2 separate regions of the Homo sapiens genome follow, and region 2 is linked to region 1. The links come from fine-mapping of genetic effects on gene expression. A gene starts in region 1. The other region holds a variant in brackets. All regions are shown on one strand. Distances are from middle to middle. Region 1 holds the start of ZNF248 (zinc finger protein 248). Region 2 has its middle 230 kb from the start of LINC00999.

What was found. PIP is the estimated chance that this variant, and not a neighbour inherited with it, causes the effect.
Region 2: its variant is fine-mapped to the expression of ZNF248 in lung (TOPMed, PIP above 0.99).

What each region holds. Positions count from the first base shown.
Region 1 is chr10:37,855,275-37,859,663 of GRCh38, reverse strand. ZNF248 (zinc finger protein 248) reads left to right here and starts at 2,054. Exons shown (of 6, transcript NM_021045.3): 1 at 2,054-2,479; 2 at 3,132-3,229; 3 at 3,327-3,368. The coding sequence starts at 3,354. ZNF248-AS1 (ZNF248 antisense RNA 1) reads right to left here and starts at 1,915. Exons shown (of 2, transcript NR_186559.1): 1 at 1,163-1,915; 2 at 1-586. RefSeq lists silencers at 1,562-2,111, 1,808-2,184 and an enhancer at 2,502-2,561.
Region 2 is chr10:38,660,201-38,664,589 of GRCh38, reverse strand. It overlaps the pseudogene SLC9B1P3. Among named protein-coding and RNA genes, the nearest start is that of LINC00999, 230 kb to the right of the region's middle. The variant G/C (reference allele first, on the strand shown) is at 2,583.

The DNA of each region.
Region 1 (4,389 bases):
TTGCCTAAGAGCACAGCGGGAGGGACAATGATCGGGATAGAAACCCAGGCATTGGAGCCGGCAACAGCTACCCACTTTGGGTCCCCTCCCTTTGCATGGGAGCTGTGTTTTCATTCTATTAAATCTTGCAACTGCACTCTCTTCTGGTCCGTGTTTGTTACGGCTTGAGCTGAGCTTTCGCTCGCTGTCCACCGCTGCTGTTTGCGGCCTTCGCAGACCCGCCGCTGACTTCCATCCCTCCGGATCTGGCAGGGTGTCCGCTGTGCTCCTGATCCAGCGAGGTGCCCATTGCTGCTCCCAAGTTGGGCTAAAGGCTTGCCATTGTTCCTGCACAGCTAAGTCCCAGGTTGGTCCTAATCGAGCTGAACACTAGTCACTGGGTTCCACAGTTCTCTTCCGTGACCCACGGCTTCTAATTGAGCTATAACACTCACCACATAGCCCAAAATTCCATTCCTTGTAATCCATGAGGCCAAGAACCCCAGGTCAGAGAACATGAGGCTTGCCCCCATCTCGGAAGCAGCCCACCACCATCTTGGGAGCTCTGGGAGCAAGGACCCCCGGTGACAATATCCTTGATTGGTTGCTGGAACAGAAAAAGGGCATTAGTGGAAGAACTGCTTAAGTCTGAATAAACTCTGCAGTTCAGTTAATAGTACTTGTACCTATGTTATTTTCTTAGTTTTGATAAATATACCATGGTCATGTAAAATACTAACACTAGTGGAATCTGGGTGAAAGGCATATAGGAACTATTTTGCAACTCTTCTGTAAATCTGAAATTATGAGCAAATGAAAAGTTTAAAAAAGTGGACAATGACCCAGGAGTTGATTTTTTAAATGAAAAGTTGTAACACACGCACATGCTCATAGTGTGCTGAAAATGCCAGATGTGCACGTAAAAGAATGTACGTGTAGTGTAGTTCTGGGTAAAGTATGGTTGGTTTTGGGAAATGAGTGCGTGCTTTCTTCTTCAAATTTGTTACTCAAACGGCTTTTTTTTTTTTAAACATATAAACAATTTTATGTTTGGGTCTTGAATTGCTAGCTTCTGTTTTTCCTTATTCCAGAGAATAACCATACTGGTCACAGATTTTAGTTTTCTCTTCCAGTCTTTCAGTTAAACGTTACCATGCATGATCGTGAATGAATTCAAGCACACCTTTCCTTCTCTTGGCTTGTGTCTAACAGGCACATTGATTTGATCCACAACCTCTGGGGACACTGACAGAATCCTGGTTCCAAGCAGGAGTGGGTAACTGAGACAGTAATCTCTCAACCCACTATACAAGGCTGTTTTGCAGGAGAGCCTTATGATGACCAGCATGATATATAATTGTGAGAAATATACTGAACAATTTATGTGTCAGACACCGGTTTAAATGCTTTTACAACGTAAGCGCCTCCAATTCTCATAAAACCCCTGCTAGGTAGGCACTATCAGCCTCATTTTACAACTGAGGGTTGCGGCCAGAGCTGACAGGCACCGTCTAGCGCCGCTTCCAAGCCCCGCATCGCATCCACCAGCCTAACTCGGGCGCTCGGCCTCTCCCTCTGCGCATGTGCATCCCCGCCTCCCGCTCCAGGCGAGTCCTTCCCTGGACTCCAGTCCCTTGTGGGAAACAATCCCTCGCCTCCGGAGGCGGCGAGGAGCGGCGGGTGAGCCCCGGAGCACTGGGCGAGGGCCAGGGGGTCCCCGCGCTGCCCTGAAGGCGGGCGGGCGGCGGCTAGACCTCGGCGGTGGGGAGGGACCCCTGGCGCCTGCGGCGACGGTGGGACGAGGGCGTCTCTGTCAGAAGGGGATGAGGTCTGGCGTGGGAACGCGAGTTCCGGGGCTCCCGGGGGTCCGTATGCGTCCAGTCCCTGCGCCTGGCGCTCAGCGAAGTCCTGTAGCACGGGGTAGGCAATGCGCACTGGCCCGAAGGGGAGGGAACTGGCTGCGGGGAGGGGACAGCACGCGCGTGCGTAGCGTGTGACGTTTGTTGTGCGCGTGCGCATGGCGTTTGATGTGTGCGTGTGCGCTTTTTGTGCCCTGAGCCCGCGGGGAGGAGGCGGGGCTGCGGGGGAGAGCGACTGCGCCAGGTCCGCGACAAATGAATTAGACACAATTATCCACGGGAGACTCGGTTTTCCTCTCTGTAAATTACGGATATTAGGAATACTTGCCGCCTGGGGTTGTTTTGAGCACTTTCATTGTTTAGGTGCTGTATTTATTGGGTGTGCGTTCCCTGGGAGAGCCCGAGGGAGACGGCTCCTGCACCGGCCCCAAGGGCCTCTCTGCCCGTGGAGTGCAGGAGCGAAGGGGCTGGCCTAGCTGACCACCAGGGCCCCTGCTGGCTCTGACCGCCCTCCTATCCCAAGTAATTATTTACACGTTTCGCGTTCGCTTATGTATTATGTGTAATCATGGCACAGTATCCTGAAGCCGTCGGAGTCTGTGTGCTGGTGCAAGGTCTGGGACAAATTTAAGAAGAGAGAGGTGAGCTGGAGCTGAGGGGTGGGCGCGCAGGCTAACAGGAACGTCACCTCTGGAGAGTCTGAGGGCAGGGACGGGTGAAAGGCTCACGGCCACAGCGAAAGAAATGCTGTTATCACCCCTCCGCGAACACCGGGCACATCCAGATGAGCTGCTGAGCTTCCTCCTCTCTTGGCCTGATATCCCCGCCGGATGGTAGTGCAGTCAGGTCATACTTGGGTTATCTGTTTTGACCTTATTTGAAAGATGGAAAAACAAAATTGAGTTTGAGGAGGTGAGTAGTTCAGATCTTGTCATTCCTTAGAGGCAGAACTGAGATTAGAAGTCAAGTCTGCAGTTTCCCGAGCCACTGCTGCCCATTTTGTTACTCTATATCACAGTTTCTCATTAAAAGATCCTTTTGAGGAATTGTTAGCAAGTTAGAACAAACATTTTTAAACTTGCATTTAACATCCTATCCCTTTTTTTAGAGGTCTTTTGCATTATCTAACCTCAGGGCATTAATGGTGTTAACAGGTAAACAGATAAACAATATGGCCTCAGTTTTTTTTTTTCCCTACAAGGAATTTTGACAAACCCATAGTGTTTTTTCCTTCAGATTACTGTTAACTTGTTAAACTCATCTTTTCATGTTTTTAATTTTTCTGTGTCACAGAACCTAAATTGGTAATAAATCAATAAGAAATATTTACATTCACTCAGTGAAAAGTGTCATGTCTGAGCTCAGCATATATCGGAGCCACACATGGACACGTAAGTATCTTGTGTGTGGACCTGTATAGGCAGGTGAATCTCCGAACTGCAAGGCCGGCGAAGGCTCTCCTGACATTCTTCCTTTCTAATCCTTCAGCTCTCCTTCCTCCACTAAGAGCGGAAAATGAACAAATCCCAGGTGAGATTCTTGTTTCTTTATTCCCAGTTTGTTTAAAAATGGATTTCTGAAGTTTATAAGGGTTTATGTTTTGAAAATGGAAAAATAGAAATAGGCAAAAATTGACATTAAGGGAAATAAAACTGAAGTAGCAAATCCAAAATAGTGCAGTTGGCAAATTAGATGCAGGATTTTTAATTTTGCAGAATTATCCAAGTTATTGTAATATTATCTCTAATTGTTCTAGTAACAATTCTGAAATAAATGCAGTAAATTGTCTATAAGTATTTCTTTGTAGAAACAAAGAACACAGTTACAGAGCAGAACTCAGTGCATATGCTTTTCAGGAGAACAAACGCTGAGGTTTGATGGTCCTGTTTGATCCAGGAATAAAACCTTGACGATGTGGAGGAATGGAGGGACTGCATGTCCTCAAAACAGTTTTCCCTAACTGTTTGTGTCAGCTCGTTCTTATTTCTAGGTTGAATCACTGACAGTTCCGACTTGTTTCTGTGTTTCTCATTTATGTTTCAATCTGATGAATGCAACCTTATTCCCTCACCTAAACTCACCTGAATCAGTTCTGGCAAAGGCCACCAAATCATAGTCAAGGCTAGTGCATGTTTTTGCCTTTGCATTACTTGCCTGGTCTGCTGCATATATTGTTAACCATGGTCTTTGTTTGGAGAGTCTCCTCTGTTGGTGTCTGTAATGCCACCCTCTGAGCTGTCCTTTCCTAACTTTGATTCCCTCCCTAGTCCTCATGAAGGCATCTTTTCTTTTTGCTCCAGGCATTGCTTATGCGTGCATTTCCATCCTTAGCCTACTTAGGTTCTTCTCGGTCTGTTTTTCCTGACTGGTTTCATTTTTTTTCCTTAATAAAGTGCTTTTGAATTAATAATACATTAATGTAATAATACATTACTTTTACTTTTTTAAAAGTATAAGTGATAACAAAAGATGTACATATATATTCACACTCCCTTCCTCTGTTCATGCAGTTTCTCCAGGTAGGGTGACATTTAATCATTAAAACCGAGAC
Region 2 (4,389 bases), 800 kb before region 1:
AGTGGTGATGAGCATTTTTCCATGTGTCTGTTGGCTGCATAGATGTCTTCTTTTGAGAAGTGTCTGTTCATACCCTTTGCCCACTTTTTGATGGGGTAGTTTGATTTTTTCATATAAATTTGTTTAAGTTCTTTGTAGATTCTGGATATTAGCCCTTTGTCAGATGGGTAGATTGTAAAAATTTTCTCCCATTCTGTAGGTTGTCTGTTCACTCTGATGGTAGTTTCTTTTGCTATGCAGAAGCTCTTGAATTTAATTAGATCTGATTTGTCAATGTTGGCTTTTGTTGCCATTGCTATTGGTGTTTTAGTCATGAATTCCTTGCCCATGCCTATGTCCTGAATGGTATTGCCTAGGTATTCTTCTAGGGTTTTTATGGTTTTAGGTCTAACATTTAAGTATTTAATCCATCTTGAATTAAATTTTATATAAGGTGTAAGGAAGGGATCCAGTTTCAGCTTTCCACATATGGCTAGCCAGTTCTCCCAGCACCATTTATTAAATAGGGAATCCTTTCCCCATTTCTTGTTTATGTCAGGTTTGTCAAAGATCAGATGGTTGTAGATGTGTGGTATTATTTCCGAGGGCTCTATTCTGTTCCATTGGTCTGTATCTCTGTTTTGGCACTAGTACCATGCTGTTTTGGTTACTGTAGCCTTGTAGTGTAGTTTGAAGTCAGGTAGTGTGATTCCTCCTGCTTTGTTCTTTTTGCTTAGGATTGACTTGGCAATGCAGGTTCTTTTTTGGTTCCATATGAACTTTAAAGTTGTTTTTTCCAATTCTGTGAAGAAAGTCATTGGTAGCTTGATTGGGACGGCATTGAATCTATAAATTATCTTTGTCTGTATGGCCATTTTCACGATATTGATTCTTCCTATCCATGAGCATGGAATGTTCTTCCATTTGTTTGTGTCCTCTTTTATTTTGTTGAGCAGTGGTTTGTAGTTCTCCTTGAAGAGGCCCTTCACATCCCTTGTAAGTTGGATTCCAAGGTATTTTATTCTCTTTGAAGCAATTGTGAATGGGAGTTCACTCATGATTTGGCTCTCCGTTTTTGTGTTATTGGTGTATAGGAATGCTTGTGATTTTTGCACATTGATTTTGTATCCTGAGAGTTTGCTGAAGTTGCTTATCAGCTTAAGGAGATATTGGGCTGAGATGATGGGGTTTTGTGAATATACAGTCATGTCATCTTCAGACAGGAACAATTTGACTTCCTCTTTTCCTAATTGAATACCCTTTATTTCATTCTCTTGCCTGATTGACCTGGCCAGAACTTCCAAGACTATGTTGAATAGGAGTGGTGAGAGAGGGAATCGTTGTCTTGTGCCAGGTTTCAAAGGGAATGCTTCCAGTTATTGTCCATTCAATATGATATTGGCTGTGTTTTTGTCATAAATAGCTCTTATTATTTTGAGATACATCCCATCAATACCTAGTTTATTGAGAGTTCTTAGCATGAAGGGCTGTTGAATTTTGTCAAAGGTCTTTTCTGCATCTATTAAGATAATCATGTGGTTTTTGTCTTTGGTTCTGTTTATATGATGTATTACGCTTATTGATTTGCGTATGTTGAACCAGTCTTGCATCCTAGGGATGCCAAGTTGATCGTGGTGGATAAGCTTTTTGATGTGCTGCTGGATTCAGTTTGTTAGTATCTTATTGAGGATATTTGCATCAATGTTCATCCGGGATATTGGTCTAAAATTCTCTTTTTTTGTTGTTGTGTCTGTCAGGCTTTGGTATCAGGATGATGTTGGTCTCATAAAATGAATTAGGGAGGATTCTATCTTTTTCTATTGATTGGAAAAGTTTCAGAAAGAATGATACCAGCTCCTCTTTGTACCTCTGGTAGAACTCAGCTGTGAATGCATCTGGTCCTGGACTTTTTTTTGGTTGGTGGGCTATTAATTATTGCCTCAATTTCAGAGCCTGTTATTGGTCTATTCAGAGATTCAACTTCTTCCTGGTTTAGTCTTGCAAGGGTGTATGTGTCCCAGAATTTATCCATTTCTTCCAGATGTTCAAGTTTATTTGTGTATAGGCGTTTATAGTATTCTCTGATGGTAGTTTTTATTTCCCTGGGCTCAGTGGTGATATCCCCTTTATCATTTTATTGCATCTATTTGATTCCTCTCTCTTTTCTCTTTATTAGTCTTGCTAGCAGTCTATCAATTTTGTTGATCTTTTCAAAAAACAAGCTCCTGGATTCATTGCTTTTTTGAAGGGTTTTTTGTGTCTCTGTCTCCTTCAGCTCTGCTCTGATCTTATTTTTTCCTTCTGCCAGCTTTTGAATGTGTTTGCTTTTTCTTCTCTAGTACTTTTAATTGTGATGTTAGGGGGTCAATTTTAGATCTTTCCTGCTTTCTCTTCTGGGCATTTAGTGCTATCAATTTCCCCCTACACACTGCTTTAAATGTGTCCCAGAGATTCTGGTACATTGTGTCTTTGTTCTCATTGGTTTCAAAGAACATCTTTATTTCTGCCTTCATTTTGTTATTTACCCAGTAGTCATTCAGGAGCAAATTGTTCAGTTTCCATGTAGTTGTTCAGTTTTGAGTGAGCTTCTTAATCCTAAGTTC[G/C]AATTTGATCGCACTGTGGTCTGAGAGACAGTCTGTTGTGATTTCTGTTCTTTTACATTTGGTGAGGAGTGCTTTACTTCCAATTATGTGGTCAAATTTAGAATAAGTGAGATGTGGTGCTGAGAAGAATGTACACTCTGTTGATTTGGGGTGGAGAGTTCTGTGGATGTCTATTGGGTCTGTTTGTTGCAGAGCTGAGTTCAGGTCCTGGATATCTTTGTTAACCTTCTGCCTTGTTGATCTTTCTAATATTGACAGTTGGGTGTTAAAGTCTCCCATTATTATTGTGTGGGAATCTAAGTCTCTTTGTAGGTCTCTAAGGACTTGCTTTATGAATCTGGGTGCTCTTGTATTAGGTGCATATATATTTAGGATAGTTAGCTCTTCTTGTTGCATTGATCCCTTTACCATTATGTAATGGCCTTCTTTGTCTCTTTTGATCTTTGTTGGTTTAAAGTCTGTTTTATCAGAGACAAGGATTGCAACCCCTGCCTTTTTTTGTTTTCCATTTTCTTGGTAGATCTTCCTCCATCCCTTTATGTTGAACCTATGTGTGAATTTGCGCATGAGATTGGTCTCCTGAATACAGCACACTGATGGGTCTTGACTCTTTATCCAATTTGCCAGTCTGTGTCCTTTAATTGGGGCATTTAGCCCATTTATGTTTACAGTTAATATTGTTATGTGTGAATTTGATCCTGTCATTATGATATTCGCTGGTTATTTGCCCGTTAATTGATGTAGTTTCTTCCTAGCATTGATGTTCTTTACAACTTGGCATGTTTTTGCACTGGCTGGTACCGGGTGTTTCTTTCCATGTTTAGTGCTTCCTTCAGGAGCTCTTGTAAGGCAGGCCTGGTGGTGACAAAATCTCTCAGCATTTGCTTGTCAGTAAAGAATTTTATTTTCTCCTTCACTTATGACGCTTAGTTTGGCTGGATATGAAACTCTGGTTTGAAAATTATTTTCTTTAAGAATGTTGAATATTGGCCCCCACTCTCTTCTGGATTGTAGGGTTTCTGCCAAGAGATCAGCTGTTAGTCTGATGGGCTTCTCTTTGTGGCTAACCTGACCTTTCTCTCTGGCTGCCCTTAACACTTTTTCCTACACTTCAACCTTGGTGAATCTGACAATTATGTGTCTTGGAATTGCTCTTCTCAAAGAGTATCTTTGTGTTGTTCTCTGTATTTCCTGAAGTTGAATGTTGGCCTGCCTTGCTAGATTGGGGAAGTTCTCCTGGATAATATCCTACAGAGTGTTTTCCAACTTGGTTCCATTCTCCTCATCACTTTCCGGTACACCAATCAAATGTAGATTTGGTCTTTTTACATGGTCTCATATTTCTTGGAGGCTTTCTTCATTTCTTTTTACTCTTGTTTCTCAACCTTGTCTTCTCACTTTATTTCATTTATTTGATCTTCAATCACTGATACCCTTTCTTCCACTTGATTGAATCGGCTATTGAAGCTTGTGCATGCGTCACAAAGTTCTCATGCCATGGTTTTCAGCTCCATTGGGTCACTTAAGGTCTTCTCTACACTGTTTATTCTTGTAAGCCTTTCGTCTAATCTTTTTTCAAGGTTTTTAGCTTCCTTGCAATGGGTTCCAACGTCCTCCTTTAGCTCGGAGAAGTTTCTTATTACCAACCTTCTGAAGCCTACTTCTGTCAACTCGTCAAAGTCATTCTCTGTCCAGCTTTGTTCCATTGCTGACAAGGAGCTGTGATCCTTTGGAGGAGAAGAGGTGCTCTGATTTTTAGAATTTTCAGCTTTTCTGCTCTGGTTTATCCCCATCCTTTTGGTTTTAT